Linked DNA regions of Homo sapiens. The protein of the gene in region 2 purifies or fractionates together with the protein of the main gene of each other region. This does not show direct contact. Each region holds a gene or a part of one and is shown on either strand. Other genes may lie near its edges. The genes, in order: HAPLN3, SAXO5, PPP2R2D and LONP1.

Region 1 (7,818 bases), on a different chromosome or scaffold from region 2:
GGGGAGGGCCCCAGGTCCTAGTGCTGGCGGTAGCAGTAAACACCGTACAAGCGGCTCTGCGGGTCGGGGAAGCCAAAGCTTCGGACCCCAGGCTCTGGGGGCCCACAGTTAGGATGCGGGTGAACCACAGGGTAGCGGACGCTACCATCTGCCAGCCAGCCAGCGTCGCAGCGGTCCAGGCCATGGAACTTCCAGGCGGCAAAGAGCTGTCCCACCTTGGCGATCGTGGCATCATCTTCCTGGCAGGCCTCCCTTGCCTCTGTCAGCGTCAGCTTCTCAGGGTGCTCCAGGTAGTACACCCGCCCTGGGGGAAAGGGGGCGTGAGTGCCGTACAGCGCAGGGGGCAGCCAGAGAGCACAGCGGGGTCTGCAGAGATGCCAGCCCCAAAGACCCGTCTGAGCCCAGGGAGCTACCATACTGCAGGCATCTGCAGAGAACACTTTCTAATCTTCACCCTGTCCCAGAGAGCTCTGTCCCACCTGCCATAGAACCCAGGTCCCTCCAGACATGTCTGCACTCCCCCACCACCCTTCCCTATTTAGGTGGGTGGGCACCCCACCTAGGCTGGACCAGTCAGAGTCTCTTGCCCATTCGGTCATTTACTGAACACCTACTATGTGTCAGACACTTTTCCAAGGGCTTGGCATATGACACTGAACCAGTTTCTGTTTTTACTTGTTCATCTTCCTACGAAATGAGCTGCTTTGTGAAGACAGGCTGTGTTTTATTCGTCTGTGATTCCCGAGAGCCTAGTCTAGGCCCCAGCATATGGTAGGCACTCAGTAAACATTTGATGAATGAAGAAACCAATGATTTATGCCCTGCATAACGCAGCAGCAGCAAAGCACTCAAAACTCAACCAGATGCTGCTTCTAGGGTGGCTGGTGCTCTTGGCCTCCAGGTGGCAGTACCAGCAGAGCCAGCAGAGGGGGCCAGAGCTCCCCAGAAGCTGCCCTCTCACAGGTCCCAGGTGGCCACCAAACCCACAGGCCCGCGCTTGGCTATTCCACTCACCCTTGAGGGCAGTAGCGAAGCAGAATACATCATAGCGGTGCAGGCGGCGGTGGCGGGGGCCGTAGCTTCGCACGCCAGGTGCCAGGCCCGGGCCACCGCAGGGCTGCCGGGGCAACATGATGGGGTACTGCACCGTGGCATCCTGCAGCCAGCCCGCGTTGCACCAGTCCAGGCCCTCCTCCCAGGCCCGGAAGAGCTGCTCAAAGGAGGCCACCACCGCAGCCTGCTCTGCACAGACCTGCTGGCCCTCGTGGAAGTTGAACTGGTAGCGCCCGTTGGGGGACTGGTAAGGAAAGACCACACCTGCAGGGGAAGGAAAGAGGAGCTTAGGGGGTGGCCAGGGGCCCAGCTGGCTGGACACCCCGCTCTCCTCCCACCTTCACTGGGACATGTGCTGCCTGCAACACACACACATACACCATCCCTCAGAAAAACTCAGCAAACCTCTGACCTCCTGTCCGTTGCCGCCTCTCTCCTGGGACTCAGCTGGTTCACAGCAGTACTCAGAAAACATCCATGAGTTAAGGTAATTAATTAGTCCATTAATGTCCCCAACAATGTCCCCAACCTAATCCGCAAGGCTGTCGCCAGACCCCCAGTGAGGCTGTGCCATCTTCTCCAGACAGGCCCGGGCTTTGGGCTCTAGGGGCCAGGTTTGACTCCCAGCTCCCCACTCGTTAGCTGGGACCCGATCGTCTACGTTATTATGAATGTGGAAATTTCCTAGGAAAATGCAAGGAACTTTCCACGTGTGGCAGATGATTTTCAGGAGAAGGAGAGGCCCTAGAGGCCGTGGGGAGAGGGTTGGGGAAGGGCCTTCCATAAAGGAGGCTCAAGGGCAGGGAGGTCTGGGGCAGGCGGTTTCTCTCCTTGTGGTCAGGGTCTGATAGAGGCCACAGGCCCTGAAAAGATATGTTCGTGTTTGAAATTTTACTCTAATAAAAAGTTTTTAAACTTCTGAGATGTAGTCTCTACCAAGTCAATGAAACCTTAGGGAGTGGAGGTGACCCTAGGGGTCTGGGAAGGACACTTTGGAATCTCCTCCGTGTGGCCAAGGACCCAGGAACAGCCTGAGCCCCAAACCTCCGATCTCACCAGGGCCGGAAGCCAGGCACCTGGGCAAAGCCAGGTTGGGCGGCAGAGAAGCCCATGGGCCCTGACAGTCAGCTTGCAGCCTCTACGTGTGTTTGCAGGGGGACTATTTCATGCCTGGTTCCACCCCAAATTCCTAGCCCTTGAAGCCCCGGGAATGGGGTGAGGGCTCCCTGTTTCTCTAGGCTGCCCCTGCAGACCCCAGACCAATGACTCTTGCAGGTTCTCCCCAACTCCACTGCCACCCCAACTTCAAGAATGAGGAATGCGGCCCCTCTGAGCCACCATGTAAGCCATGTGGACACTGGTGGCAAAGACAGAGAACGCATTTTAAGGACATACATCTTATCCTCATTGCCTCTGAGGGAGGTAAAGGAGGAAAGATTGTGATACCCCATTTTACACCTGAGAGGCCCAGGGCTCTAAGGGGGATGAGGCATTTACCCACATGTCATAGCTGGGACGGGCTGGGGCTAAAGTCAGGTCACCTTCCTCTATCCCCGAACTGCCTCCCTAACATGTGGGAGAGATGTGAGGACACACAGCCCCATCCTAGAGACAGAGAAGGTAAATACAAATTAAAGATCAAACAGGGACCCCACATACAAGATCCGGCTTGCAGGGTGTGGCTGGTTTGGACAGCACTGGGTTTTTGTTTTTGGTTTTGGGGGGGCTTTTTGTTTGTTTTTTGTTTTGTTTTGTTTTTAAAAAGGAGGTTTTTACATAAAAATCAGGAGATCTCACATAAAAATATAAGCTTATCTTGTCAAGCCAGAAAATTTGGCAGTGGGGTCTGCATTCTGGCGTGGCATCATCAGCTGGGCCTGAGTAGTGTGGGAGCTCCCTGGGCACAGGACAAGGGCTCAGGAGTGTGCCCAGTCCCCACCACTCCCATCGTCTCACAGTGGGCTGCCTCATTCGCTTGTGTTACCCGCTAACCTTGCTTAAATCTCAGCTCTGTCTCTAATAAGCTGTGGGACCAGCTCTGGTTTTCCTCTCTCTGAATGAGATGTGAATTACAGCGGGTAGAGGGGAACAGATTCTAGAGGCTGGGTGCTTGGGTTCAGACCCCAGCTCTGTCGTTTACAAGCTGTGTGACCTTAGGTAAGTTACTTGACCTCTCTGTGCCTCAGTTTTCTCACCTGTAAAATGGGGGTCACAACAGTAGCTTCCATGTGGGTTGTTTTGAGAATTAAGTACTTTTAAATGTCTAAAGCACAGAGGTCTGGATGTTTTCTCTGGTCCTCTCCCCTCTGCTCTCAGGTCCCAGTGTCACCCAGTCCCCGTTAGCATCTCACCCCGCAGCTCCAGCTCCACCAGACCGCTTTCATCCTCCAGCCCGTCAATGACCTCACAGCGGTAACGCCCATAGTCCTCCAGCCGCAGATCCTGGATCTCCAGCGAGACGTCATGCTCTTTGTCCTGCCGCAGGTGCACGCGGCCTTGGTAGTCCCCAAAGGAGCGGTGCCTCAGCCCGATGGCCACCAGCACGTCCTTCTCTGGGGCCCCGTTCTCCGACAGCTTCCACCATTTGACACGCACACGCCGCGGGGAGACCAGGGCCGGCTCGTAGCGGTAGCGGCAGGGCAGGATCACACTGGCCCCTTGGTAGGTGAACAGGGTCTCCTCGGGTGTCTCCACCACCAGCTTCACTCCATTAAGGAGGTCTTGGGGGAGAGACAGGGTGCAGATGAGACCTGCTGAAGCACATCTGTACCCCTGCAAGGGCCACCGCACACCCTCATCCACGGCTCCTACAGGCTCAGATTGCAAAAATGGCCACCATGCTCCACCCCTCCCTGTATCCACATGCTCTGCAATGTGACTTTGCATCTCCTTCCATCAAGAGATGACAGTTATTCCCCCACCCCCTTGAATCTGTGCTGGCCTTGCCACTTGCTTGACCAACTGAATGCCTTGGAAGTGACTGTTATCCATCATGCCTGCTCTGAGCATAGGTCCCAGGGGGCCTTGCTGCTTCCACTCTTTTTTTAGGACTTTGCCAGCCACCATGAGCACATGGCCAGGCTTGCCTGCTAGAGGATGAGAGAATACACAGAACAGAGACAGGGCGCCCCAGCTGAGGCCATCCTACAGCAACCAGCCCCCAGCTGACCTGCCCACCATGGGCAGGCACATCTGCAAGACCCAACCGCAAGACCTGAAGAAATGGAGCCCACTCCAAAATGCTGACCCACAGAATCATGAGCTAAACAAATGGCTGTCATCCTAAAGAAGTCACTAAGTTTTGGGTGGTTTGCTATGCATAAAATCTAACCAATGGAGCAGGCAACAAGAGCCACCCCACATGAGGTACATGGCCAGGACAAGTGGCCCTGATAGGGATCCGTCGGAGTTTCCTTCCCCACCACACTGGCCAGAGGACAGCACAGCCCTGGCTTTACTCTCTGGTCCAGCTGTCCACCATAACTCTTCCCAAATACGGAGCAGCCTACTGAGCTAAGGGCAGAACTTCTAAAGGAGACTACGCTCACGGCTCAGAGTTACAAATACACACAGAACTCAACATGCAACAAAAGAATCAAGTTCATAGGCTAAGGCTGCCTCATCTTTAACTTGGGAGCCCCTGTTGGGACCTCACTGATTCATTCTCTTGGGTCTAGACTTCAAGACATGCTTGATTTACTCAAGGTGGGGACAGGGGCCAGGCACGGTGGTTCACGCTTATAATCCCAACACTTTGAGAGGCCAGGACAGGAGGATCGCTTCAGCCCAGGAGTTTGAGACCAGCCTGGGCAATAAAGTGAGACCCTGTCTCTACAAAAAAATTTTTAAAACTAGCTGAGTATGGTGGTAGATGCTTGTGGTCCCAGCTACTCGGGAGGCTGAGGTGGGAGTATTGTTTCAGCCCAGAAGTCAAGGCTGCAGTGAGTCATGATCGCACCACTGCATTCCAAACTGGGTGAGAGAGCAAGACTCTGTTGCCAAAAACAAAATAAAAACAAATTAATTAATTAAAAAGGTGGAGGCAAGGGGACAGCCTCATGGGTAAGCAGGAGACAGACAGGGAGGTTCCCTGTAGAGGAATCGTGCTAAAAAAGAGCTATACCTAATGTAGCAGATTGCCATATGCAGAAGTCTCCAAGTGTGGCCCTCGGGCCAGCAGCATTAGCATCACCAGGAATTTGTCAGAAATGCACATTGTGGGGTCCCAGTGCCTCAGAGACTCTGGGAATGGGGTCCAGCCTCCAGGGGACTTTCAGGCTCATTCAGATTAGAGCTGTCCTGCTCTGCAGAGGCAGTAGGTACAGAGGTTTGGAGTCAGGCAATTCGGGCTTGCCCTTGGTTCCACCTTTTCCCAGCTGTGTAATCCAGGGAAGTCAAGACTCAGCTTCCCCATTTGTAGAATGGGTTAATTACAGTCCCTACAGAGGGCTGTGGTAAGGTTCAAATCAGGTAAGGCAGGATGCCTGGCACACAGAAAGTGTCCAATAAATATGAAGCAGGGCTATCATTTAGGGGCCACTTCCTTGGTTCTTCCCAACTCTCTTAAGTAAACTACCTTTGAAGCTTTAACCTGAATAAAATGAAAATGTACATCCATATGATAAAATACTATACAGCCATGTAAAATAATCTGGTAGATGTACATTCAATCATTGACTTAGAAAACGAGTTCTATTCTATGAGGTGATAAGGGAGAATACAAAAATCACATGTATGACATGAGCTGGTTTTTGTTGGAGAAAGTTTTCTAAATCATAAAAGAATGGCTCAGCTAGGTGCAGTGGCTCACGCCTGTAATCCTAGCACTTTGGGAGGCCAAGGCGGGCAGATCACTTGAGGCCACGAGTTCGAGACTAGCGTGGCCAACACGGTGAAGCCCCATCTCTACTAAAAATACAAAAATTAGCTGGGCACAGTGGTGCACGCCTGTAGTCTCAGCTAACTCAGGAGGCTAAAGTGGAAGGATCTCTTGAGCCCAGGAGGCAGAAGTTGCAGTGAGCCGAGATCACACCACTGCACTGGTGTGACAGAGTGAGACCCTGTCTCAAAAAAAAAAAAAAGAAAAGGCTAGAAAGAGATACCTAAAAAGTTAACAGTGGTTCCCCTGGGTGGGGGGATTATATATGACTTTGCTTACATATTCAGGGACAAAAGGGAAAGACAAAAATGAAATGTTGGCCTGGTAGTGTAGTGAAACTATGAGTAGGAAGTTTAAGTTTTTTAAATTCCGCAAATCTCATTAAAGTAGTGCTTGTAGGCCGGGCACGGTGGCTCACGCCTGTAATCCCAGCACTTTGGGAGGCCAAGGCGGGCGGATCAGGCGGTCAGGAGATCGAGACCATCCTGGCTAACACGGTGAAACCCCATCTCCACTAAAAATACAAAAAATTAGCCAGGCATGGTGTCGGATGCCTGTAGTCCCAGCTACTCGGGAGGCTGAGGCAGGAGAATGGCGTGAACCCAGGAGGCAGAGCTTGCAGTGAGCCGAGATCGCGCCACTGCACTCCAGCCCAGGTGACAGAGCGAGACTCTGTCTCAATAAATAAATAAATAAATAAAGTAGGGCTTGTATAACAAAATAAATTCTGAAGGAAAAGGGTGTGGTGGGCTAAATAATGGCCTCCCAAAATACCCTAAATCCTAATTATGTAGCAAAATGGACTTTGCAGATGAGGTTAAACTAAGGATGTCGAGATGGGGAGGGTATCCTGAATTTCCCAGGTGGGCCCTAAATGCAAATGCGCAAGTACCTGTTTAGAGGGAGGCAGAGGGAGATTTGCATATAAAAGAGGAGAAGACCACGTGACCAAGGAGGCAGAGCCTGCAGTGAGGCAGCTACAGCCAAGGAATGCCAGCAGCCACCAGAACCGGAAGAGGCAAGGCAAGAACAGATTCTCCCCAAGAGCCACAGGAGGTACAGTCCTATCCGCACCTCGATTTCTGCACAGTGAAACTAATTTTGGATTTCTGGTGCCTAAAGCAGTGAGAGAATACATTTCTGTTGTTTCAAGCCACCAAGTTTGTGTTAATTTGTTACAGCTGACCTAGGAGACTAATCAAAAGAGGGAAAATGCCTCTGCAGGCACAATCATCTACTCAAAGGCAGAGGGAAAGGTGAGAAACACCCAGCACTGCACTTGCAGGCTCATGTGTCGTCTCTGAACCAGGCTGTGCGCTCTTCATGGCAGGTGCTGGCTATTACTGAGACCAGCCATCTGGTTCGTTCCTTCCACAAACAAGTGGAACAAGTTTGTTGTTGTTGTTTTTGAGGCAGAGTCTCACTCTGTCACCCAGGCTGGAGTGCAGTGGTGTGATCTCAGCTTACTGCAACCTCCTCCTCCCAGGTTCAAGCAATTCTCATGCCTCAGCCTCCTGAGTAGCTGGGATTACAGGTGCACGCCACCACACCCGGCTAATTTTTTGTTTTTTGTGTTTTTTTTTTTTTTTTTGAGACGGAGTCTCACTTTGTCGTTCAGGCTGGAGTGCAGTGGTATGATCTCAGCTCACTGCAACCTCTGCCTCCCAGGTTCAAGCAATTCTCCTGCCTCAGCCTCCTGAGAAGCTGGGATTAAAGGCACCTGCCACCACGCCCGGCTACTTTTGTATTTTTAGTAGAGACAGGATTTCACCAGGTTGGTCAGAATGGTCTTGATCTCTTGACCTCGTGATCCATCCACCTCGGCCTCCTTAAGTGCTGGGATTACAGGTGTGAGTCACCGCGCCTGGCCAATTTTTTGTATCTTT
Region 2 (7,818 bases):
TGCTCAGAAGACTGAGGTGAGAGGACCGTTTGAGCCCAAGAGGTTGAGCCCACCACACTTGTCTAATTTGTGTGTGTGTGTGTGTGTGTGTGTGTGTGTGTGGAGACGGGGTCCCACTATATTGCCCAGGCTGGTCCTGAACTCCCGGGCTCAAGCAGTCCTCTTGCTCTGACCTCTCACTGTGCCTGGATACAGGTGTGAGTCACAGTACCCAGCTATTACCTTCTAACCTACTCTTCAATTTTTGTTGTTATATTTTTTATTATTGTCTGTCATCTCCCGCCCCATTATCAATTCCACAAAGGCAGGGATCTAGGTCTATTTTGTGAACTAATGTTAGTTCCCCACCCCTGCTGGCCTCCAGGCCTAGAGTAGGGACAGAAATCATTTATGTGGTGCCTACTGTGTGCCAGGCCTACAGTAGGCACCACATGAAAGATTTTTTTTTATGTTTTGAGACGGAGTCTCGCTCTGTCGTCCAGGCTGGAGTGCAATGGCACAATCTCGGCTCACTGCAACCTCTGCCTCCCGGGTTCAAGCGATTCTCCTGCCTCAGCCTCCCGAGTAGCTGGGACTACGGGCGCCCACCACCACTCCAGGCTAATTTTTTTTAAAAATTATTTTTAGTACAGACAGGGTTTCACCACGTTGGCCAGGCTGGTCTCGAACTCCTGACCTCAGGTGATCCACCGGCCTCGGCCTCCCAAAGTGCTGAGATTACAGGCGTGAGCCCCCGCGCCCAGCCATGATTATTTCTGTCTCTGCTCTCGCTGGGGGAAGGCACAGAAGCTGTACCAGTTTCCCGTGATGTCCCCAGCCTCCAGCTCAGTGCTTGGCGAACAGAAAGGAGTCAAAGGCAGCAGAAAGGAGTCAAAAGCAGGAGTCAAAGGCAAGTGCCCCAATGGGCACTTGCTCAGTCCCTCATCTCCACCCTCTCGCAGGTGGCTGGTGTCCCGCGATGGCCACAGGCGCCCTCCTGCCGTGCTCGCGCCCGTGCCCGATGTCCCGGCTGGACTTCCTCAAGGCCTCGCACTTCTCGCTGGGGCCTGACCTGCGGCTGCACGAGGGCACCATGCGCACCACGTCGCACCGGGACTTTGCCTACCCGGCTGCCACCCGGGAGCCGCCGAGCCTGCAGCCGCCGCCCGCGCTGCTTTTCCCAATGGACCCGCGCTGGGACCGGGAAGAGCGCGTGTCGGAGGCGCACCGCGCGTTCCCGCCGCCATCCACGCCGCCGTGGGAGCTGCTGCAAGCGCAGGCGCGGGAACGCACGCTCGCCATGCAGGCCGGCAACCTGCACCTGCACGAGGACGCGCACGCCGGGATCGGCCTCTCCAACGCGCACGCCGCCTACGGCTGGCCCGAGCTGCCGGCGCGCACCCGAGAGCGGATCCGCGGCGCGCGCCTCATCTTCGACCGCGACTCCCTGCCTCCTGGCGACCGCGACAAGTTGCGCATCCCGCCCACCACGCACCAGGCGCTCTTTCCACCCCACGACGCGCGCCCGCAGCCTCGCGCGCCCAGTTGCCACCTCGGTGAGCGCGCGCCCGGGCTGAGTGGGCGATTTGCTTCACATTGTGGTTCTCAAACAGGGGCAAGGGCTCTTCATTCCCCTTCCCCCAGGGAACATTTGGCAATGTCTGGAAACGCTTTTGGTGGTCAGGACTTGGGGGGTGGCCGGGCGCGGTGGCTCAAGCCTGTAACCTCAGCACTTTGGGAGTTGGAGGCGGGGGGATCGCTTGAGGTCAAGAGTTCGAGACCAGCCTGGCCAATATGGAGGAACCCCGCCTCTACTAAAATACAAAAATTAGTAGGGCGCGGTGAAGGGTGCCTGTAATCCCAGCTACTTGAGAGGCTGAGGCAGGAGAATCGCTTGAACCCAGGGGGCAGAGGTTGTGGTGAGCTGAGATTGTGCCACCGCATTCCAACCTGGGAGACAGAGCAAGGCTCCGTCTCAAAAAAAGGAAAGAAAGAAAGGAAGAAGAGAAAGAAGAAAGAGAGAGAGAGAGAGAGGAAGGAAGGAAGAAGGAAGGAAGGAAAACAAGACAGAGAGGAAGGGAGGGAGGGAGGGAGGAAGACTTGGGGGGTGGCGAGGCCACCCGCGGTGGCTCACGCCTGTAATCCCAGTGCTTTGGGAGGCCTAGGCAGGAGGATGTCTTGAGGCCAGAATTGGAGACCAGCCTGGGCAACATAGCGAGACCCATCTCTACAAAATAAAAATTTTATTATTTTTTTATTATATATATATGTGTATATATTTTTTTGAGAAAGTGTCTCTGTCACCCAGGCTGGAGTGCAGTGGCATGATCTCGGCTCACACAGACTAAATCTGCCCAGCTCAAGTGATCCTCCCACCTCAGCCTCCCAGGCAGCTGGGACTGCAGACACGCATGTCACCAGGCCCAGCTAATTTTTTGTACTTATTTGTAGAGATGCAGTCTTACTATGTTGCCCTGGCAGGTCTTGAACTCCTGGGCTCAAGCAATCCATCTGCCTCGACCTCCCAAAGTGCTGGGATTATAGGCATGAGCCACTGAGCCCAGCCCTTACAAAATAAAAATTTAAAAAGATGGGCAGAGGTGCTACCAGCAGACAGCGGGTAGAGGCCAGAGATGCTGCCAAGTATCCTCCCAGCCAGCCCCAAATGTCAATTACACCAAGCCTCAGAAACCCTGGAACCACCTTGAGCATCAGTTTCAGCATCAGGAGGGTGGACATATCCTCTGAATCTGTCCAGAGTGGTGCATGGTTGGCAGAAGTCATGAATGCCAGTTTGGGGTCAGACAAATCAGCTAAGTTCCCCAGCTGTACACCCTCCTCCCCACACCCCCCAGCCTTACCACCTTAGTAGCTGTGTGAGTCTGAGGGAGTTAACCTCTCCAAGCCTCAGTTTCCCCGTCTACAAAATGGGTGCAATCACAGGGCCCAATTCACAGGAGCTAGTAAAGCTGAATGTGTATGGTGTGTCTGGTGCAGAGAGCACTTAACAAAGAGTAGCCAGCATTCGTGTAATTTTCCAATTCTGTGACTCCAGGGACCCTTTGGGTGAACATTACTGGTCAGAGGCCCCTAAGATGGGCTCAGGGATTGTCAAACCCTGATTTGACATTTAGTTGTGATTCCTAGTTTCTGTGATTTCTGGCAAGTTGCTTAACCTCTCTGAGCCTCAAGGAGGCTGTAACAAGAGAAATGATACCAGGTCCAAGAAGAAGTTGCGGCCGGGTGCAATGGCTCATGCCTGTGATCCCAGCACTTTGGGAGGCTGAGGCAGGCGGATCACTTGCGGCCAGGAGTTGGAGACCAGCCTGGCCAATGTGGTGAAACCACATCTCTACTAAAAATACAAAATTCAGCCTGACCTGGTGGTGCGTTCCTGTAATCCCAGCTAGCTACTTGGGAGGCTGAGGCAGGAGAATCGCTTGAACCTGGGAGGAGCAGGTTGCAGTGAGTCAAGATTGTGCCACTGCACTCCAGCATGGGCCACAGAGCGAGACTCCATCTCCAAAATAAAAGAGAGACGGAGAGAGAGATACTCAGTCCTGGAAAAAGATGCAATGCACTTAACCTATGTGTGGCTCAATATAGTCCTTGGTAGATATTATTGGGGTTTTTTTGTTTTATTGTGTGTGTGTGTTTTTGAGACAGAATCTCACTCTGTGGCCCAGGCTGGAGTGCAGTGGCACGATCTCGGCTCACTGCAACCTCCACCTCCCAAGTTCAAATTATTCTCCTGTCTCAGTCTCCTGAGTAGCTGGGACTACAGGCACATGCCAACACACCCGGCTAATTTTTATATTTTTGGTAGGGATGGGGTTTCACCGTATTGATCAGGCTGGTCTTGAACTCCTGACCTCAGGTGATCCACCTGCCTTGGCCTCTCAAAGTGCTGGGATTACAGGCATGAGCCACCACACCTGGCTGTATTTTTAAATTTATCATTATTTTTTAGAGATGAGGGTCTTACTATGTTGCCCAAGCTGGTCTCCAGCTCAAGATGGGCTCAAGCCCATCTTTGCACTTCAGCCACCTGAATAGCTGGGATTACAGGCATGGGCCATTGCACCTGGCTTTTAGTATAATTTATTTTATTTTTATTTTTATCTTTTGGTGTTTGCCAGACAGCTCTCAGTCTACACTGTTCAGAATGGCCCAGCTCCCCTTCCCAGGCAAGAAATAGAATTCCTTCCAGAGGGCTTGAGATGGCAGGGAATCTCAATCTCTCTCTCTCTCCCCCCATCCCCCTTGCCTATCCTAAGGGGGCCCCAACACCCTCAAGTGGGACTACACGAGACAAGATGGGACTTCCTACCAAAGACAGTTCCAGGCCCTGCCAGGCCCACCTGCCTTGAGGTGTAAGAGGGTAAATTGAGGCTGTGTTGGGGCTGCAGGCGGGGGCAGAATTGGGGGCTGGGTGGTTTGGGCCTTCCTATCCCTGTCTGCCCACAGGCCTCCTCCGGAGTGGAGCTGGGAGACTGCAAGATCAGCTATGGATCAACGTGTTCGGAGCAGAAACAGGCCTACAGGCCCCAGGATCTGCCTGAAGATAGGTATAAAGGGGCCACTGCGGGCACGGTGGCTCATGCCTGTAATCCCAGCACTTTGGGAGGCTGAGGCAGACAGATCATGAGGTCAGGAGCTCGAGACCAGCCTGGCCAATATGGTGAAACCCTGTCTCTACTAAAAATACAACAATTAGCCGGGTGTGGTGGTGGGCGCCTGTAATCCCAGTTACTCCGGAGGCTGAGGCAGGAGAATCGCCTGAACCCGGGAGGCGGAGGCTGCAGTGAGCCAAGATTGCACCACTGCACTCCAGCCTGTTCGACAGAGCAAGACTCCATCTCAAAAAAAAAAAAAAAGTGGGGGACGAGGGGGCACTGCCTTCCCACCCAGATGGGACAACTGGCTTTCAGTAGCATGTGGTATTTGCCCCTTAGGGCTTTAGGGCCCATACTCTGCCTCTGAGGTCTCTGTCACTGGTAGCCAAGGTGCACTATTGTGCCAGATCTCTCATTATCAGAGCCCCACAGCTTGGTCATTAGGAAACCCTGCTCCCCTCCCTCTTTCTGGGGGTTGCAAGGCCCCAGATGGATCCACTTTAGCTTCTTCTTCTTCTTTTTTTTTTTCTTTTTTTTTTTTTGAGACGTAGTCTCGCTCTGTTGCCCAGGCTTGAGTGCAGTGGCACAATCTCAGCTCACTGCAACCTCCGCCTCCCGGGTTCAAGCAATTCTCCTGCCTCAGCCTACCGAGTAGCTGGAATTACAGGCATGTGCCACCATGCCCGGCTAATTTTGTATTTTTAGTAGAGATGGGGTTTCACCATTTTTGCCAATCTGTTCTCAAAAGCCTGACCTCAGGTGATCCACCCACCTCAGCCTCCCAAAGTGCTGAGATTACAGGGGTGGGCCACCATGCCCAGCCCACTTTACCTTATTCTTGATGGAATAATACACTACGTACAGGTATGACAAGGCCCAGGCCACAGCCCACATCCACTGTGTAAATATCCGTCCTGGTGACGGCCTCTTCCGCGACAGGACCACCAAGGCCGAGCACTTCTATGCCAGGGAGCCAGGTGAGAGCCTGAGGCCCGCCCCGTCCCGCCTCCCACCGCAGCCTCCCAGGGCAGCTCTGCACCTGTTCCGCTTCTGGCAGAGCCTTTTGTTCTTCACCACGATCAGACTCCGGAGTCGCACATCCTGAAAGGAAATTGGTGCCCCGGCCCCGGCAGTCTGGACACCTTCATGCAGTACTTCTACGGCCAGGTGAGCAGGAAGAGCGAAAAGGCGGCAGGGAAAAGGGCTTCCCAGACAGAGCAAATAGCAGGTGCAGAAGTCCCAAAGTGGGAGTGAGCTTGATATGTATGCAGGAATCTCCTGGATGTACTTGAGTGATCTAGGGCGAGTCACTTAACCACTCCGATCCTCCTCCGTGGCTCCTTCTGTAAAATGAGATAAGAGTACCAACTCCCAGTGCTACCAGGTGGGGCCCAGAAGGGGTGAGGGAGCTGTCCAAGGTCACACAGAGCCCACCTCCTCCCTCCCCCCCGGGCCCGGGGACCTCTCGGACGCCGGAGCTTTCAAATGCCATGTGGTCCTACAGCCGCCACCCCCGACCCAGCCACCCAGCCGCCACGTGCCTCATGAGAAATTGCAGAGTCATGTGACCCTAGGGGAGCCAAAGCTACTCAAACGCTTCTTCAAGACCACCATGGGCTCGGACTACTGCCCTTCAGAGTGGAGACAGGTGCAGAAAGCGCCCAACCTCCACTTGCAGCAAAGCTACCTGCCGCGGGGCACGGGCGGTGAGCGCTCCCGGGAAGCCCCGCCCCATGGAGCCCCGCCCCGGGAAGCCCCACCCCCGAAAGCCCCGCCCCCATGGAGCCCCTCCCCATGGAGCCCCGCCCCCACGGAGCCCCGTCCCGGGAAGCCCAGCCCTGGAAGCCTCGCCCTTGCCACTGCTCTGGCCCCGCCCCTAACCAGCCCTCCCCTCCCCCGGCTTCATCCCCTGAAAGGCTAAATCCCACCCCCAATTGACCAGAACCCCAACTCTGCTCCTGGATAATCCCGCCCCTTCATGGCCATGCCTCTCCCCTTCATAACTCCATCCTTCTGGACACGGCCCTGCCCCTTCTCCATCCTCTCTTATCCAGTCTTAACTCCTCTTCCATTGTCAGACTCTGGCTCCGCCCCTGACCCGCTAGCCTGCCCTGCCTGGCCCTGCCCACAGACTCATCTGGCCCGGCCCCGCCCCTGACCTTCTTAGCCCTATGCCCTAGCTCTGGGTTCCTCCCCTAGCTCCTCCGTCCTCCTCCAGCTCCTCCCTCTTCCCAAGCTCCTCCCCCTTTCTCTGGCTCCTTCCTTTGTCCCAGCTCCTCCCTCTTTCCCAGTTCCTCCCTCTTCCCCAGCTCCTCTCTCCTCCCCTGGCTCCTTCCTCCTCCCCCACCTCCTCCCTCTTCCCCAGCGCCTACCTCTTTCCCAGCTCCTCCCTCTTTCCCAGCTCCTCCCCCTTCCTCTGGCTTCTCCCTCCTTCTTTGGCTCCTCCCTCCCCCCTCTCCTAATCCATTTTTCTCCCCTGGTCAACTTCAGCGCTGGCCTGGGCTTGGCTCTTGAACCCTTCCCTTGAACTTCACCACACCCTCAGCCCCGCCTCGGCCCACAGCCCTCACTCAGCCTCCCCAACCTGAATCTCCAGAATTCGATTTTTTAACCATGAACCAGAAGATGCTGAAGCCACACAGAACACCTCCGGCCCCGGTGACTGAAGAGATGCTACAGCGGGTAAGGGAGGCGGAGGGGAGCCACCCATCATTAGGCAACCCCCACATTGGTGTAGAGTTATCTCAGGACGACTATGCTGTCACCCTGTCTCAGAGTTAGTGATCACCCAGGCTCGGGGGCATCTTAATATCCCTTCAGCCTGAAGATCATCCCTAGCTTGGCCGGGTGCAGTGGTTCACGCTTGTAATCCCAGCGCTTTGGGAGGCCGAAGCAGGCGGATCACCTGAAGTCAGGAGTTCGAGACCAGCCTGGCCAACATGGTGAAACCCCGTCTCTACTAAAAATACAAAAATTAGTCAGGCATGGTGGCGCATGCCTGTAATCCCAGCTACTAGGGAGGCTGAGACAGAATTGCTTGAACCAGGGAGGCAGAGGTTTCAGTGAGCCAAGATCGCACCATTGCACTCTGGGCTGGGCAACAGAGCAAGACTCTGCCTCAAAAAAAGGAAAAAAAAAAATAGAGGTCATCTCTAGCTCACCCCCCAGGGTCATGTCAAGGTCAGCTCAGGGGCATCTTTGCACCACCACCACTGTTATACCC
Region 3 (7,818 bases), on a different chromosome or scaffold from region 2:
GGGGGGGTCCCTGTCTTATCAGTGACTTGCGGGTGTGTGTGGGGGGTTCACTGTCTTAGCAGTGACTTGCGGGGGGGGTCCCTGTCTTATCAGTGACTTGCGAGTGTGCGGGGGTTCACTGTCTTAGTGACTTGCGGGTGTGCAGGGGGTTCACTGTCTTAGTGACTTGCGGGTGTGCAGGGGGTTTCACTGTCTTAGCAGTGACTTGCGGGTGTGTGTGGGAGGTTCACTGTCTTAGCAGTGACTTGCGGGGGTTCCCTGTCTTAGCAGTGACTTGCAGGTTTGCGGGGGTTCACTGTCTTAGTGACTTGCGGGTGTGCGGGGGGTTTCACTGTCTTAGCAGTGACTTGCGGTTGTGTGTGGGGGGGTTCACTGTCTTAGCAGTGACTTGCGGGGGGGTCCCTGTCTTAGCAGTGACTTGCAGGTATGCGGGGGTTCACTGTCTTAGTGACTTGCAGGTGTGCGGGGGTTCACTGTCTTAGTGACTTCCAGTTGTGCGGGGGGTTCACTTAGCAGTGACTTGCAGGTGTGTGGGGGGTTCACTGTCTTAGCAGTGACTTGCGGGGGGTCCCTGTCTTAGCAGTGACTTGCAGGTGTGCGGGGGTTCACTGTCTTAGTGACTTGTGGGTGTGCGGGGGGTTCACTTAGTGACTTGCAGGTGTGCAGGGGGTTTCACTGTCTTAGCAGTGACTTGTGGTTGTGTGTGTGGGGGTCACTGTCTTAGCAGTGACTTGCGGGTATGCGGGGGTTCATTGTCTTAGTGACTTGCGGGTGTGCAGGGGTTCACTGTCTTAGTGACTTCCAAGTGTGCGGGGGGTTCACTGTCTTAGCAGTGACTTGCGGGTGTGTGGGGGGGTCACTGTCTTAGTGACTTGCTGGTGTGCGGGGGTTCACTGTCTTAGTGACTTGCGAGTGTGCGGGGGGTTCACTGTCTTAGCAGTGACTTGCGGGTACATGGATAGTCACTGTATTTTTTATTCCTCTTGATATATTTCAAATATTGCAAAATACCCTTAGATTACATATCCCCAAGAACATCTAAAAGCGTTCCCAGTAACATTTGCTTAGTCCATTCACTCTCAAAAACACGCCAGTCTTCCTACCTGGAAACTTCTGTTGAGGGATGCGATGAAGGGGAGTGAGGCGTTTCAGTGCTGCCTCAGCCCAATCCTGATTCTCCGTGTGGCAGCGCCTTCTTGTGTTCTAGGTCGCCCCACAGAACCAGTTATGTGCTTACGCCTGTGTCTCTGTCTGTGCTGTTCCCTTCCTGGGCCAGCACCAGGCTGCTGGGCAGCGCCCTTGTTTGCAGTGTGGAAACACCCACTCTGGGGCTGGCACTATCTGTCGAGAATTTAAAAGTGATCATAAATCTGTATGAAAGCTGATGTGCTTTTCGTTATTACCATGCACCAGCAATTCCAGTCAGTGTCGGCCATACATCATCTGTCGTCTGTGTTCTGAATAATGGTTACTGTTGAGTTTTAATAACATAAATGTAAGCTTCAGATTCACACATTCTTATTACTTACCCTTTCGTAAACATTGTGTTTTATGTGGAAACTAATTTGGGGAACCCCCAGTCAATGGCCCTCACGTGCCAACTTGGCTGCATACCCCTGTTCCAAGACCACGTGCACAGCTTGGCATTGCTGGAGGGCGCTGGGCACACCTTGTGTCTCCCGCCTCTGTGGCGCTGTGGGCTCCTGGATGGAAGCAGGAGATGGGAAATAAACATGGATCGCTGAATGCAGTTTCTCTTCTCTGAGTTCGTCTTTTTTTTTTTTTTTTCCCCTGCTTTGAAGTTTTAGACAAGGTCAGTCAGACACTAGGTATTTGCCAGCAGCCAGGGTCAGTGCTGGGCCATGGAAGGGAAGCGGCCCGCTTCTTTCTCATGGCACCTTGAAGACGCGCCAGCGTGAAAGGCCTCTCACCGCGCATGACCATGGGGGCAGGACGTGAGGGCGCGGGTTAGTGTCAAAATAGGAAGAGGAGGCGAGCTTCAAGGACGGCTGGAGAAACCAGAAGGGCATTGTTTGAACACATCTTTCATCAGAAACTGGACTCATGAAGCCATGGGTCAAATCATGGCAGCGTTTGCATCATTCAGCTATTTTTCTGTCATTTTTGTAGAAAATGTAAGATTGCAGAGGTTTTTACCAGTATTATGAAGTTATATCATGAGGATGTGTGCGGTAGTAGAATTTTTCGACAGCAGAGACATTTGAAAGCCATTACAGTTGATCTTGAAGAAACAAAAGCATGGACGGTATTGTATTGTCTGGAATGTGTGTGAAATGCAGTTGTTCTAAAATTCTGCCACACTTTGCCCAGTGGATTTTTACTATTTCTATCCGTTGCCTCATTTGAAAGAAACTTTTTGAAATTAATAGAAAAGCAGTTTAACTCCAAAGAAACATTGACAGATATGACTAGTAACTGTTGAACATGATAAGGATTATGTTCAGGTCATTATGGATCATTGACAAATTGCAGAACATAAGGCTTAAAAATAAACTGTGCTGTTATTCATGAGTGAGATAAATAGGTGGGGTTGTTTCAAAAAATACACTAATGTTAAAAGTGTGACTCCATTATTTTGTTTCTCCTGTGACATGGATTCTTACTGACATGATTATAGATAAAGCTCGGTACACATTTTCACTGCATTTCTCTTCTGCCCATTGTGATTGATCATTCCTGATTTCTGAAAGTAACTGGGTTGTGGGGGAGGGTGGCGTGCGCTGTGCACCCCAGGGGTGGGGTCTGAGTCCTTGCTGCCGCTCCCCCCACTGAGGAGTGCTGCTGTCTGCTCTTGTTTTGAACAGCGCCATCATGACCGGGTCCTATAACAACTTCTTCAGGATGTTTGATAGAGACACGCGGAGGGATGTGACCCTGGAGGCCTCGAGAGAGAGCAGCAAACCGCGCGCCAGCCTCAAACCCCGGAAGGTGTGTACGGGGGGTAAGCGGAGGAAAGACGAGATCAGTGTGGACAGTCTGGACTTCAACAAGAAGATCCTGCACACAGCCTGGCACCCCGTGGACAATGTCATTGCCGTGGCTGCCACCAATAACTTGTACATATTCCAGGACAAAATCAACTAGAGACGCGAACGTGAGGACCAAGTCTTGTCTTGCATAGTTAAGCCGGACATTTTTCTGTCAGAGAAAAGGCATCATTGTCCGCTCCATTAAGAACAGTGACGCACCTGCTACTTCCCTTCACAGACACAGGAGAAAGCCGCCTCCGCTGGAGGCCCGGTGTGGTTCCGCCTCGGCGAGGCGCGAGACAGGCGCTGCTGCTCACGTGGAGACGCTCTCGAAGCAGAGTTGACGGACACTGCTCCCAAAAGGTCATTACTCAGAATAAATGTATTTATTTCAGTCCGAGCCTTCCTTTCCAATTTATAGACCAAAAAATTAACATCCAAGAGAAAAGTTATTGTCAGATACCGCTCTTTCTCCAACTTTCCCTCTTTCTCTGCCATCACACTTGGGCCTTCACTGCAGCGTGGTGTGGCCACCGTCCGTGTCCTCTCGGCCTTCCTCCGAGTCCAGGTGGACTCTGTGGATGTGTGGATGTGGCCCGAGCAGGCTCAGGCGGCCCCACTCACCCACAGCATCCGCCGCCACCCCTTCGGGTGTGAGCGCTCAATAAAAACAACACACTATAAAGTGTTTTTAAATCCAAACAGAAGTATTGTCTTTTTATTTAATTTTATTGCATAGAATGAAGTTATGCAGGGTTCTTCTTTGGAACTAACTGTTTGAGAAATGTGTGTCCTTCTTTGGCAGCGTGGGGGTATGTGTGCAGCATTTCTGTCCCCAAGCTGCTGCCCGCTGTGTTTCTGTAGAAGTAGCCCATCAGATACACCAGGTAAGGTCTGGGAAAAGCCAGAACCGAGGCCACCTCTGAGAAAGAAAATTGCAAGGAAGAACCAAAATTGCTGCCATCCAGTAAGCCTGGTTTAAAGTAGCTTCAAATTCACTACAGTTGAAGAAATACGTGCTTGCTTTCTAAGGCTTTTGAAAAAGCACTTTGGGGAAAGTATACTTTTTAAACATTGCTAAAATTACATGCATGCTAAATTTCATCCTGCATTTCAAGCCAGCAAAATTAAGCAATTTTAATTACACGATGCCACCAGTACGTTGGTTTATTTTCAAAGTAGGATCTTTGATACCAGAAATCAAGATTTTCCAAGACAAATAATACAGAGCTGTACCAATGCTGAGTGACCAGAGCTTGCTTCCGTGGGATTTAACACACGCCCACTACGTGTCCCCGAGGGGAGTGGGGAGTCGGGCTCCCGTGCCCCTGTGGAGATGGAGGTGTGTGCTGATCCCCCGTCCGCCTGTGGAGATGAAGGTGTGTGTTGATTCCTCCTGCTGCTGTGGAGATGGAGGTGTGTGCTGATCGCCCGTCACCCTGTCTAGATGAAGGTATGTGCTGATTGCCTGTGCCCCTGTGGAGAAGGAGGTGTGTGCTGATCCCCTGTGCCCTGTGGAGATGGAGGTGTGTGCTGCTCCCTCGTGCCCCTGTGGAGATGGAGGTGTGTGCTGATCCCCCATCCCATCCCCCTGTCTAGATGAAGGTGTGTGCTGATTCCTCATGCCCCTGTCTGGATGAAGGTGTGTGCTGATCCCCCGTCCCCCTGTGGAGATGAAGGTGTGTGCTGATCCCCCGTGCCCCTGTGGAGATGAAGGTGCGTGCTGATCCCCCATCTCCCTGTGGAGATGAAGGTGTGTGCTGATCCCCATCCCCCTGTGGAGATGAAGGGATATGCTGATCCCCTGTCCCACTGTGGAGATGAAGGGGTGTGCTGATCCCCCGTCCCCCTGTGGAGATGAAGGTGTGTGCTGATCCCCCATCTCCCTGTGGAGATGAAGGGGTGTGCCAATCCCCCGCGCCCCTGTGGAGATGGAGGCGTGTGCTGATCCCCATCCCCCTGTGGAGATGAAGGTGTGTGCTGATCCCCCATCCCCATGTGGAGATGAAGGGGTGTGTTGATCCCCTGTCCCCCTGTGGAGATGGTGTGTGCTGATCCCCGTCCCCCTGTGGAGATGAAGGTGTGTGCTGATCCCCCATCTCCCTGTGAAGATGAAGGGGTGTGCTGATCCCCCGTGCCCCTGTGGACATGGAGGCGTGTGCTGATCCCCCGTCCCCCTGTGGAGATGAAGGTGTGTGCTGATCCCCCATCCCCATGTGGAGATGAAGGGGTGTGTTGATCCCCCGTCCCCCTGTGGAGATGAAGGTGTGTGCTGATCCCCGTCCCCCTGTGGAGATGAAGGGGTGTGCTGATCCCCCATGCCCTGTGGAGATGGAGGTGTGTGCTGATCCCTCGTGCCCCTGTGGAGATAGAGGTGTGTACTGATCCCCTGTTCCCCTATCTAGATGAAGGTGTGTACTGCTGATCCCCCGTCCCCCTGTGGAGATGAAGGTGTGTGCTGATCCCCCATCCCCCTGTGGAGATGAAGGGGTGTGCTGATCCCCCGTCTTCCTGTGGAGATGAAGGTGTGTGCTGATTCCTCATGCCCCTGTGGAGATGGAGGTGTGTGCTGATCCCCCATCCCCCTGTGGGGATGAAGGTGTGTGCTGATCCCCCATCCCCCTGTGGAGATGAAGGGGTATGCTGATCCCCCGTCCCCCTGTGGAGATGAAGGTGTGTGCTGATCCCCCATCCCCCTGTGGAGATGAAGGGGTATGCTGATCCCCTGTCCCCCTGTGGGGATGAAGGTGTGTGCTGATCTCTTGTCCCCCTGTGGAGATGGAGGTGTGTGCTGATCCCCCATCCCCCTGTGGAGATGAAGATGTGTGCTGATCCCCCGTCCTCCTGTGGAGATGAAGGTGTGTGCTGCTTCCTCGTGCCCCTGTGGAGATGGAGGTGTGTGCTGGTCCCCCGTCCCCCTGTGGAGATGGAGGTGTGTGCTGATCCCCCGTCCCCCTGTGGAGATGGAGGCGTGTGCTGATCCCCCATCCCCCTGTGGAGATGAAGGCGTGTGCTGATCCGCCATCCCACTGTGGAGATGAAGGCGTGTGCTGATCCCCCATCCCCCTGTGGAGATAAAGGTGTGTGCTGATCCCCCATCCCCCTGTGGAGATGAAGGCGTGTGCTGATCCGCCATCCCACTGTGGAGATGAAGGCGTGTGCTGATCCCCCATCCCCCTGTGGAGATGAAGGCGTGTGCTCATCCCCCATCCCCCTGTGGAGATGAAGGCGTGTGCTGATCCGCCATCCCACTGTGGAGATGAAGGTGTGTGCTGATCCCCCATCCCCCTGTGGAGATGAAGGTGTGTGCTGATCCCCGGTCCCCCTGTGGAGATGAAGGTGTGTGCTGATCCCCCGTCCTCCTGTGGAGATGAAGGCGTGTGCTGATCCCCCGTCCCCCTGTGGAGATGAAGGCGTGTGCTGATCCGCCGTCCCCCTGTGGAGATGAAGGCGTGTGCTGATCCGCCATCCCCCTGTGGAGATGAAGGCGTGTGCTCATCCCCCATCCCCCTGTGGAGATGAAGGCGTGTGCTGATCCGCCATCCCACTGTGGAGATGAAGGTGTGTGCTGATCCCCCATCCCCCTGTGGAGATGAAGGCGTGTGCTGATCCCCGGTCCCCCTGTGGAGATGAAGGTGTGTGTTGATCCCCCATCCCCCTGTGGAGGTGAAGGTGTGTGCTGATTACTAATCCACATGGGCAAGAACAGGATGTCCGTCATTACCCTGAATCAATGCTAACACAGTGCCACTTGAGTTCACATTAAGTTAGAAATTGAGAATCTAAAGGTACCTTTATTTTAACTAAAAAATAATTTATATACTGTATATTGATTGTGACACAATTTACAAAGTCTGAGGTGTGGAACAGTTATTTAAGCATTAGTCAACCCTGGTCCTTAAGACAGTTCTAGTAAAATGGGATTGTATATATTTGTTCAACTATTTTGACCAAAAAGTTCAATAAATTTTAAATGTTTAACTGGATTTTCACTGCGTATTTGGACACCCTTTTCCATCTTCCTCTAGAATGTATTTCCCACTAAATAGCCCACCTCCTCCACCCCCAGGGCAGAGCAGAAGGTGCAGCCCAGGCGGGTCCCGTGTGTAGAGGTTCCACGTGGCACTGCTGCTCCCGTGGAACTGCCACTGCCTTGAGGTCTGCGGCGCACGTTCCCTGGAGGTGTCGTCACCTAGCTCTGGGGCGCCTGCGGGGGAAGCCACCTGGCCAGCAGTCCTGTCCGTTTCTGTGGGTTCTCCCCAGTGCAGTCTTGATGTTCTGAGAGGCGCTGGCAATTCCACGCACCTATGTCCGCAAAAAGCAGGATCCATTCACTTTAGAGAAGTGCCCTCAACAGGCGCGGAGGAAGACGTGCCCTCAACAGGTGCGGAGAAAACTTCTCTTTCCTGCTTAAAGTAGAACAGTGTCATCAGCTTCTGAAGGTTAATGCTGAGCACAGTTTTCATTGATGAGGATTCTGGGCCCGTGGTTCAGGTGGAGGTTTGCTGCTCTCTGGGCTGATGACCCGGATTCCATGAACACACTTTCTTCGTAAGTGGATTTAACGTGCCTTTTTTGAAAGAAAAATGGAGCTCCTATGAACCAGTTTATGATGCCCTCGTGGACAGACTCAGTCTGATTTTGGAGGCCACACGACTGGCAGGTGTGGCTGGAGACTGCAGCATGTGCGTGTCTGTCTGTCCTGTGTGGAGCCAAATCATCACCATCAGTGCCAGAAGCCTCCCAAAGCCCAGTGCCATGGGATTGGTGTGTGTCCTGCTCCCGGCCGGAAGAAGCTGGCCCTGGATCCGCCTGGCCCGGCTGCTCT
Region 4 (7,818 bases), 1.8 Mb from region 2:
GAGTGACAGGGTGAGACTCTGTCTCCAAAGAAACCGTAATCACCTGGTCTCTAGTCTTTGGCTTTGACGCTGAACTGTCTGAGCTGACCCTGGTAGAAGGCACCAGAACAGGCCCACTGGAGGTCCGGGGCACTTGCTTTAAGAATAAGTTCAGCTGGGCACAGTGGCTCACGCCTGTAACCCCAGCACTTTGGGATGCTAAGGCGGGCGGATCACGAGGTCAGGAGATCCAGACCATCCTGGCTAACACGGTGAAACCCCGTCTCTACTAAAAAATACACAAAAAATTAGCCGGGTGTGGTGGCGGGCACCTGTAGTCCCAGCTACTGGGGAGGCTGAGGCAGGAGAATGGTGTGAACCCGGGAGGTGGAGCTTGCGGTGAGCCGAGATCACGCCACTGCACTCCAGCCTGGGCGACAGAGGCTCCATCTCAAAAAAAAAAAAAAAAAAAAAAAAAAAGAACAAGTTCGCTGCCCCTAAGGGGTCTTGCCAGTTCTAATCACATTTGTAAGTTTGGTCGCTGTCTTCCCCCTGTTGCAAGATTCTCACAGGGAATGCCCCAATGCTGAGCTGCCCAGGACAGTGTAGCCGCTGGTGGCTGTCTGAATTTTTTTTTTTTTTTTTTGAGACAGAGTTTTGCTCTTGTTGCCCAGGCTGGAATGCAATAGTGCAATCTCGGCTCACCGCAACCTCTGCCTCCCAGGTTCAAGCAATTCTCCCGCCTCAGTAATCCCGAGTAGCTGGGATTACAGGCATAAGCCACCACACCTGGCTAATTTTTTTTTGTATTTTTAGTAGACACGGGGTTTCTCCATGTTGGTCAGGCTGGTCTCAAACTCCTGACCTCAGGTGATCCGCCCACCTCGGCCTCCCAAAGTGCTGGGATTACAGGCGTGAGCCCACCGTGCCCGGCCTGAATTTTTTTATTTTAATTTTTAGATACAGGGTCTCACTCTGTTGCCCAGGCTGGAGTGCAGTGATGCGATCACAGCTCACTGCAGCCTCAATCTCCTGGGCTCAAGCGATCCTCCCACAGGTTAGACCACTGGTGTGTGCGACCATGCCCAGGGATTTTATTTTTTTTGTGGAGACAGGGGTCTCAATATTGCCCAGGCTGGTTTTGAACTCCAGGGCTCAAGTGATCCTCCTTCCTTGGCCTCCAAAAGTGTTGGGATGACAGGCATGAGACACTGTACCCAGCCAATAAAATGTTCCATTCTGTTCCTTGGCCACAGCAGCTCTACTTCAAGTGCTCAATACTCACAGGTGGCCGGGCACAGTGGCTCACGACTATAATCCCAGCATTTTGGGAGGCTGAGGTGGGCGGATCACCCGAGGTCAGGAGTTTGAGACTAGCCCGGCCAACATGGTAAAACCTCGTCTCTACTAAAAATACAAAAATTAGCCGTGTGTGGTGGCACGTGCCTGCAATCCCAGTTACTTGGGAGGCTGAGGCATGAGAATCACTTGAACCTGGGAGGTGGAAATTGCAGTGAGCTGAGATCGTTCCATTGCACTCCAGCCTGGGTTGACAGAGCCAGACTCTGTCTCAAAAAAAGAAAGAAAAAAAAAAACCTCGCAGGGGTAGTGGGGCAGGATAGAAGTGCTGACCTCAAGAACCCAGGTGGGCCTGTGGACAGGACTTTCCACCCCTGCCAGCGCCCACAGCAGACATCACCAGTTGCTCACAGCACTTCCCCCTAGGCCCTGCAGCAGCCTGGGGAAGAGGCTGATGACACCAGGCACACAGGTAAGGAGCTGACACGCTTCAGGCCTTTGGTTAGCTTCGCTGACTGTCCCTACAGCGGGAGGGCAGGTGGCACCGCCAAGAGCCTGCCCACCTCGGAAGCTGACTCCTTGTGCCACCAGGCAGGCAGGACGGCCTAGGTTGGGGGATCAGGGTGGCCAACAGGCTGTTTCCTGTCCTGCAACCACTGGTACCAACCTCCCAGGCTTGGTGGGAAGAAGCCAGGGCTGGAAGGTGTCTTGGTAACCGCTGGAGGCTTTGGCACAGGGGACACGGGCTGGGGCTGGACCTGGGTTCCAACCCTGTCTCCTTCCTGAGCAGCTACAGGCTCCAGCGAATTTCCTGTGCCTCTCCCATCCCAGAGTCTTCCGAAGACCTCTGGGAGGAAAAGCACCCTCTATGTTCCATTAGAATTGAGTTCCAGACAGGCCAGACCCTTCCTAAGGGGCTCAGGGTGGGAGATGACTCTTCGGAGAGGCCGCAGGAACGGCTCAAGGGAGCCCGTGGGGGAGGCAGCTGTGGCCGCCCTGCGTGACGCACGGACTCACTTTCACCTCCTCCGTGACCTGGAAGTCCTCGTGGACAACGTTCTCTACCTCCACCATGAGCACCTCAGCCGGGAGCTCAGGGGTGGGCTCCATCGCCAGCTCCGCCGGGTGCCTGGCGCTCAGCTCGTCCTCCGCCTCCTTCTTGCCCCGCTTTGACTTCCTGCGGGGCTTGTGCTTGTTCTCCGCCTCCGGCTCCTCGGGCTCCACCTCCAGCTGTCTGCTGATATGGACTCTGACACGGGAGCAAGGCAGGTGTGAATCAGCCGCTGAGGCTGGGAGCTGGACCCGGCTGAGGCCTCCCTGGTGGCACAGGTGGTCCAAGGGTCCCGCTGAGCCCAGACCTCTGGAGCCACAGGGTGGCTACAGGGTCCTCAAGCTGGAGACGTGAGCCGCTTTCTCGGGGCCTCCCAACCAGTGTCCCCTCCACCCCTTAGACTCCAGCCAGATTCAGGCATTCCCTGCATCCCACGCCAATGCATCACTGTCCCCATCCTAAGTATCGTGGATAAGCTGCAGTGACAAGCCCCAGGGCCTCCTGTCGAAAACGGTGTCAGCCTGGCCGGGCACAGGCTGGTCTCCAAGACTCTGTGCCCTGGACTCAGCTCATAGCAGCTCCTTCCTGTTGTTCAGGTCTCGATTTCAAGGACACCATCGCAAAGACTGTCCCCAAGCACTTCACAAAAGCTACCCACCTCCACCTCTCACGCTGTCTGCGTCTCCCCTCAGAGCACCTGGCACCACCTGAACTCAGGGTCTCGCTCTGTTGCCCAGGCTGGAGTGCAGTGGTGTGATCATAGCTCACTGCAGCCTTTACCTCCTGGGCTCAAGCAATCCTCCTGCCTCAGCCTCCCAAGTAGCTGGGACTACAGGAACACGCCGTCACATCTAACTTTTTATTATTTTTTATAGAAACAGGGTCTTGCTGTGTTGCCCAGGCTGGTCTCAAACTCCTGGGCTTAAGCGATCCTCCCACCTCAGCCTCTTGCGTAGCTGTGACCACAGGCATGAGCCACCACATCCAGCTAATTTTTCTACATTTTTTGCAGAGATGGGATCTCGCTACGTTGCCCAGGCTGGACTCAAACTCCGGGCTCAAGCGATCCAATTGCCTTGACATCCCAAAGTGCTGGAATTCCAGGCAGGAGTCACCATGCCTGGCCCTGCAGCTCACCCCTTTCTGAGACAGGAGGGGTCCAGAGGTGACATGTCTCACTCTCACCCCCAGCTCTGGCCTCAGTGCTAGTGAGAAAGCCGCTGGGCTGACGGACAGGGCAGAGGCTGATGCTGGGGCATAAGGCATCCTGGCTGGTCTCCCGCGTGGTACTCTGCCCCCACCTCCCACTGTCCCCCGCCAGCCACCCACCTTCTGTGTCCCATGACGATCATGCGCAGCTTGTCCCCAAGGTCCTGCATCTCATGGATCTGGGCAAACGTCCCCGTGTGGTAGATTTCATCCAGGCTCTCGACCACATCCGACTCATTGCTGTGGGAGAAGAGCACAGAGGAATGTTGGAACATGGCTTTCATGCTAGGCAGGATGTCTCTGGCTGAGATGGAGGAGGGAGAGAAAAGAAACGCCCCTACCAAATGCTACTGAAAACCAAGAGCGGCCTCCTTGGCTCCCGCAGGAGCTCCAGAGCCTAGGGGAGCTTCTGCCAGGCCAGGGCTGCCCCAGTGGTCACAGGACCGGGTGGGTGGCTCCTCGCTAAGTCAGCCACAAAGACATGGTCCAGGTGGGACTTTGATGAGTCTCTTCTATGCTATCACAGAGCCTGCTTCGAATGCATGCATGGAACTCTTTTTTTCTTGAGATGGAGTTTCGCTCTTGTTGCCCAGGCTGGAGAGCAATGGTGTAATCTCAGCTCACTGCAACCTCCACTTACTAGGTTCAACCGATTCTCCTTCCTCAGCCTCCTGAGTAGCTGGGATTACAGGTACCTGCCACCACGCCTGGCTAATGTTTTGTATTTTTAGTAAAGACGAGGTTTCATCATGTCAGCCAGACTGCTTTGGAACTCCTGACCTCAGGTGATCCACATGCCTCAGCCTCCCAAAGTGCTGGGATTACAGGTGTGCGACCCCACGCCCGGCCCATGGAACTCATTTCTACATGGAGCCACATCTCCGAGCAGCTAGCTCGACTTTCAGGTAGCCTCATGGAGCATTTCATCACTAAGAGTCCCTGAAGTTAATTTCCCCCGTATCTTAACAATGCATGAAGTTTAGTACTACAAGCTGAGTTCTCAGCCCAGGCTGAAAAGGTAGCCTGCGTGGCTTCTGGCCTTTATTCTGGAGGTCTTCCCTGGTTTCCTCGGGGTCAGGGGTCAAAGGTGCAAAGTACAGAGTAGGACTTGTGGTGAGCTGGACTCTAGGGCACCGTCAACAAGGGAATGAAGGAAAAATCACACTTACCTGTCATCTCTCTTTAGAAAGACGCCGACATAAGGCTGGGCGAGACGAACTTTCCTTCTCAGCAGCTCAACCAACTTCTTATTTTTAACCTAGCATGACAATGACCCCAAAGTGAAATGCAGAGTAGATTTTTTTTTTGAGACAGAGTCTCATTCTGTTGCCCTGGCTGGAATGTAATGGCGTGATCTCAGCTCACTGCAACCTCCACCCCCACTGAGTTCAAGGGATTCTCCTGCCTCAGCCTCCTGAGTAGCTGGGATTACAGGCATGCACCACCACACCTGGCTAATTTTTTTATTTTTAGTAGAGATGGGGTTTCACCATATTGGCCAGGTTGGTCTCGAACTCCTGACCTCAGGTGATCCACCCACCTCAGCCTCCCAAAATGCCGGGATTATAGGCGTGAGCCACCAAACGCAGCACAGGGTAGCTTTTCTTTTTTTTTTTTTTTTCTGAGACGGAGTCTCGCTCTGTCACCCAGGCTGGAGTGCAGTGGCATGATCTCAGCTCACTGCAACCTCCGCCTCCCGGGATCAAGCAATTCTCTGCCTCAGCCTCCTGAGTAGCTGGGATTACAGGCGCCCGCCACCAGGTCCGGCTGATTGTTTTGTATTTTTAGTAGAGATGGGGTTTCACCATCTTGGCCAGGATGGTCTTTAACTCCTGACCTCGTGATCCACCCACCTCAGCCTCCCAAAGTGCTGGGATTATAGGCGTAAACTACCACGCCCGGCCTCCCAGGGTAGCTTTTGTAGCTGACATTTTTTGACAGCAGAGCCGCTCTAACGCTGTGTAGATTATTCTCTGGGGACATGCTGATCCGCATCCTGGATACTAATCAACATGGTTTGGGAACGCCTAAACAAAAAAAAAAAAAAAAAAAAAAAAGTGCTGGAGGCCAGGAGGCTGTGGTGGTGAATACAGTGAGCAGAACTGACCAGCTGGATTCTTCTTAGCGGTTTCCCCACTCCCAAAGGAAATTCAAAGTAGACGAATGGTCAGAACCCAGAAATTGATTTAACATCCAGCTTCAAAGGGGATGTCCAGGGCAAACTGTCTTGGTTTGAAAATCAAAACCATTCTGCTTTTATTAATGTCAGAATAAACATAAGTAATTTAAATGTGACCCACTCCAGAGATTGATAACTTCCTTTTTTTTTTTTTTTTAATAAAGTTTCAGGCTGGGCGCGGTGGCTCACGCCTGTAATCCCAGCACTTTGGGAGGCCGAGGCGGGCAGATCACAAGGTCAGGAGATCGAGACCATCCTGGCTAACACGGTGAAACCCCGTCTCTACTAAAAATACAAAAATTAGCCGGGCGTGGTGGCGGGCACCTGTAGTCCCAGCTACTCGGGAGGCTGAGGCAGGAGAATGGCGTGAACCCGGGAGGCGGAGCATGCAGTGAGCCAAGATCACGCCACTGCACTCCAGCCTGGGCGACAGAGTGAGACTCTGTCTCATAAAAAAAAAAAAAAAAAAAAAAAAAAAAAAAAAAAAGAAAGTTTCACTCTGCCACCCAGGCTGGAGTGCACTGGTGCAATCTCGGCTCACTGCAACCTCCACCTCCCAGGTTCAAGCGATTCTTCCAACTCATCCTACCACATAGCTGGGGTTACAAGCACACGCCACTGCACTCGCTAATTTTTGTATTATTAGTAGAGACGGAGTTTCGCCATGAGCCACCATGCCTGGTTCCTCCAATTTTCATTGACAGTTACTTCCTTATCACATCATATGCTGTTCATTAATGATCAAGACCCCCAGGATCACAGCACATTCTCAACGGCAGGTTCAGGGCTAATGATGTCTTCTAAGAAGCATTTGAAGGCGCAAGGAGCTCACCTGATTTCTTTCAAGCCTTTGTTAATTCACTGGACAGACCCTGATTAAAGGTAATGGCCTGGCTAGCCTGGTAATGGTAGCTCATGCCTGTAATCCCAGCACTTTGCGGGGCTGAGGTGGGAGGATCGCTTGAGCCCAGGAGTTTGAGACCAGCCTGGGTAACACAGTGAGACCCCATCTCTATTTTCTTTTTGAAGTTTTTAATTCTTTATTATATAATAAAGTTAAAATATACATATATATATATATATATATATATATATATATATATATATAGTAATGGCCCTCAAACTTTTGCAGGCACCAGGATGACCTGAAGGACTTTAAGCAGCTCACTGCTGGGCCCCACCCTTGGAGTTTTTGATTCAGTTCTAGGGTGGGTCCAAAAATCTGCATTTCAAACAAAAGAGCATCACATGATGCCGATGCTGCTGGTCCACAACCATCCTTTGAGAGCCAGTGTTTTGACTCACTCCCTAACACAGGCTCTTAACTTGTGGTCCAGAAATTCCTGACACTATAGATACATAATTTTTTTTTTTTCTGTTCCCAGAAAAAAAAAAGTCAGTAACATCTGACAGGAGGGTGTGTGACCCACTGTTATAAGTAAAATGTTTGTTTAGAGACAGAACGCTTGTACCTCTGTACTGTAAGGAAAAATTAGCATTTGGACAAAAAGTTTTCTTAGCAAGACAATTTTACTTTCTGAAGAAAGGGTGCTCCTCGCAGATGGAACAATGGCGAGAGCAGAGCACACCTGAACAAAGGAGGGAAGCAATTTTTTTTTAAGACAGAGTCTTGCTCTGTCGCCCAGGCTAGAGCGCAGTGGAGCGATCTCAGCTCACTGCAAGCTCCGCCTCCTGGGTTCACACCATTCTCCTGCCTCAGCCTCCCGAGTAGCTGGGACTACGGGCGCCCACCACCACTCCAGGCTAATTTTTTTGTATTTTTAGTAGAGACGGGGTTTCACCTTGTTAGCCAGTATGGTCTCGATCTCCTGACCTCGTGATCCGCCCACCTCAGCCTCCCAAAGTGCTGGGATTGCAGGCGTGAGCCACCGCGCCCAGCCCACGAAGTTAGTTTTTAAAAGAAACTAATACTTCTAACACTTATGATTTATTCTTTAATACCCACCAAAAATTAAGAGCCATTGTTCCTTACTCAAAAGTTGCTAATAGGAGAGAAGCTTCTAGAGCAAGTTGGCCAGACAAGTCAAGTACAAACTGAAGAGTAAATCAAGCTTTGCTAACAATTTCAGAAACATTTATT

What was found.
Region 1: the proteins of SAXO5 (region 2) and HAPLN3 purify together in Homo sapiens (affinity purification with mass spectrometry; 2 studies listed by BioGRID and IntAct, with this or other methods). This does not show direct contact.
Region 3: the proteins of SAXO5 (region 2) and PPP2R2D purify together in Homo sapiens (affinity purification with mass spectrometry; 2 studies listed by BioGRID and IntAct, with this or other methods). This does not show direct contact.
Region 4: the proteins of SAXO5 (region 2) and LONP1 purify together in Homo sapiens (affinity purification with mass spectrometry; 2 studies listed by BioGRID and IntAct, with this or other methods). This does not show direct contact.

Annotation. Positions count from the first base shown.
Region 1 is NC_000015.10:88,877,953-88,885,770, forward strand, and holds part of HAPLN3 (hyaluronan and proteoglycan link protein 3 isoform 2 precursor), read right to left. Parts: intron 3,774-7,818; coding exon 3,405-3,773; intron 2,659-3,404; coding exon of another isoform or gene 2,591-2,658; exon of another isoform or gene 1,777-2,590; intron 1,517-1,776; coding exon of another isoform or gene 1,459-1,516; intron 1,318-1,458; coding exon 1,015-1,317; intron 305-1,014; coding exon 18-304; 3' UTR 1-17. UniProt on the Homo sapiens protein: May function in hyaluronic acid binding.
Region 2 is NC_000019.10:7,499,865-7,507,682, forward strand, and holds part of SAXO5 (stabilizer of axonemal microtubules 5), read left to right. Parts: intron 1-941; 5' UTR 942-958; coding exon 959-1,535; intron 1,536-4,256; coding exon 4,257-4,360; intron 4,361-4,446; coding exon 4,447-4,547; intron 4,548-5,459; coding exon 5,460-5,572; intron 5,573-5,652; coding exon 5,653-5,762; intron 5,763-6,099; coding exon 6,100-6,301; intron 6,302-7,191; coding exon 7,192-7,277; intron 7,278-7,818.
Region 3 is NC_000010.11:131,952,859-131,960,676, forward strand, and holds the end of PPP2R2D (serine/threonine-protein phosphatase 2A 55 kDa regulatory subunit B delta isoform), read left to right. Parts: intron 1-2,825; coding exon 2,826-3,105; 3' UTR 3,106-6,976; downstream 6,977-7,818. UniProt on the Homo sapiens protein: Substrate-recognition subunit of protein phosphatase 2A (PP2A) that plays a key role in cell cycle by controlling mitosis entry and exit. Involved in chromosome clustering during late mitosis by mediating dephosphorylation of MKI67.
Region 4 is NC_000019.10:5,709,476-5,717,293, forward strand, and holds part of LONP1 (lon protease homolog, mitochondrial isoform 1 precursor), read right to left. Parts: intron 4,797-7,818; coding exon 4,708-4,796; intron 3,779-4,707; coding exon 3,659-3,778; intron 2,528-3,658; coding exon 2,296-2,527; intron 1-2,295. UniProt on the Homo sapiens protein: ATP-dependent serine protease that mediates the selective degradation of misfolded, unassembled or oxidatively damaged polypeptides as well as certain short-lived regulatory proteins in the mitochondrial matrix.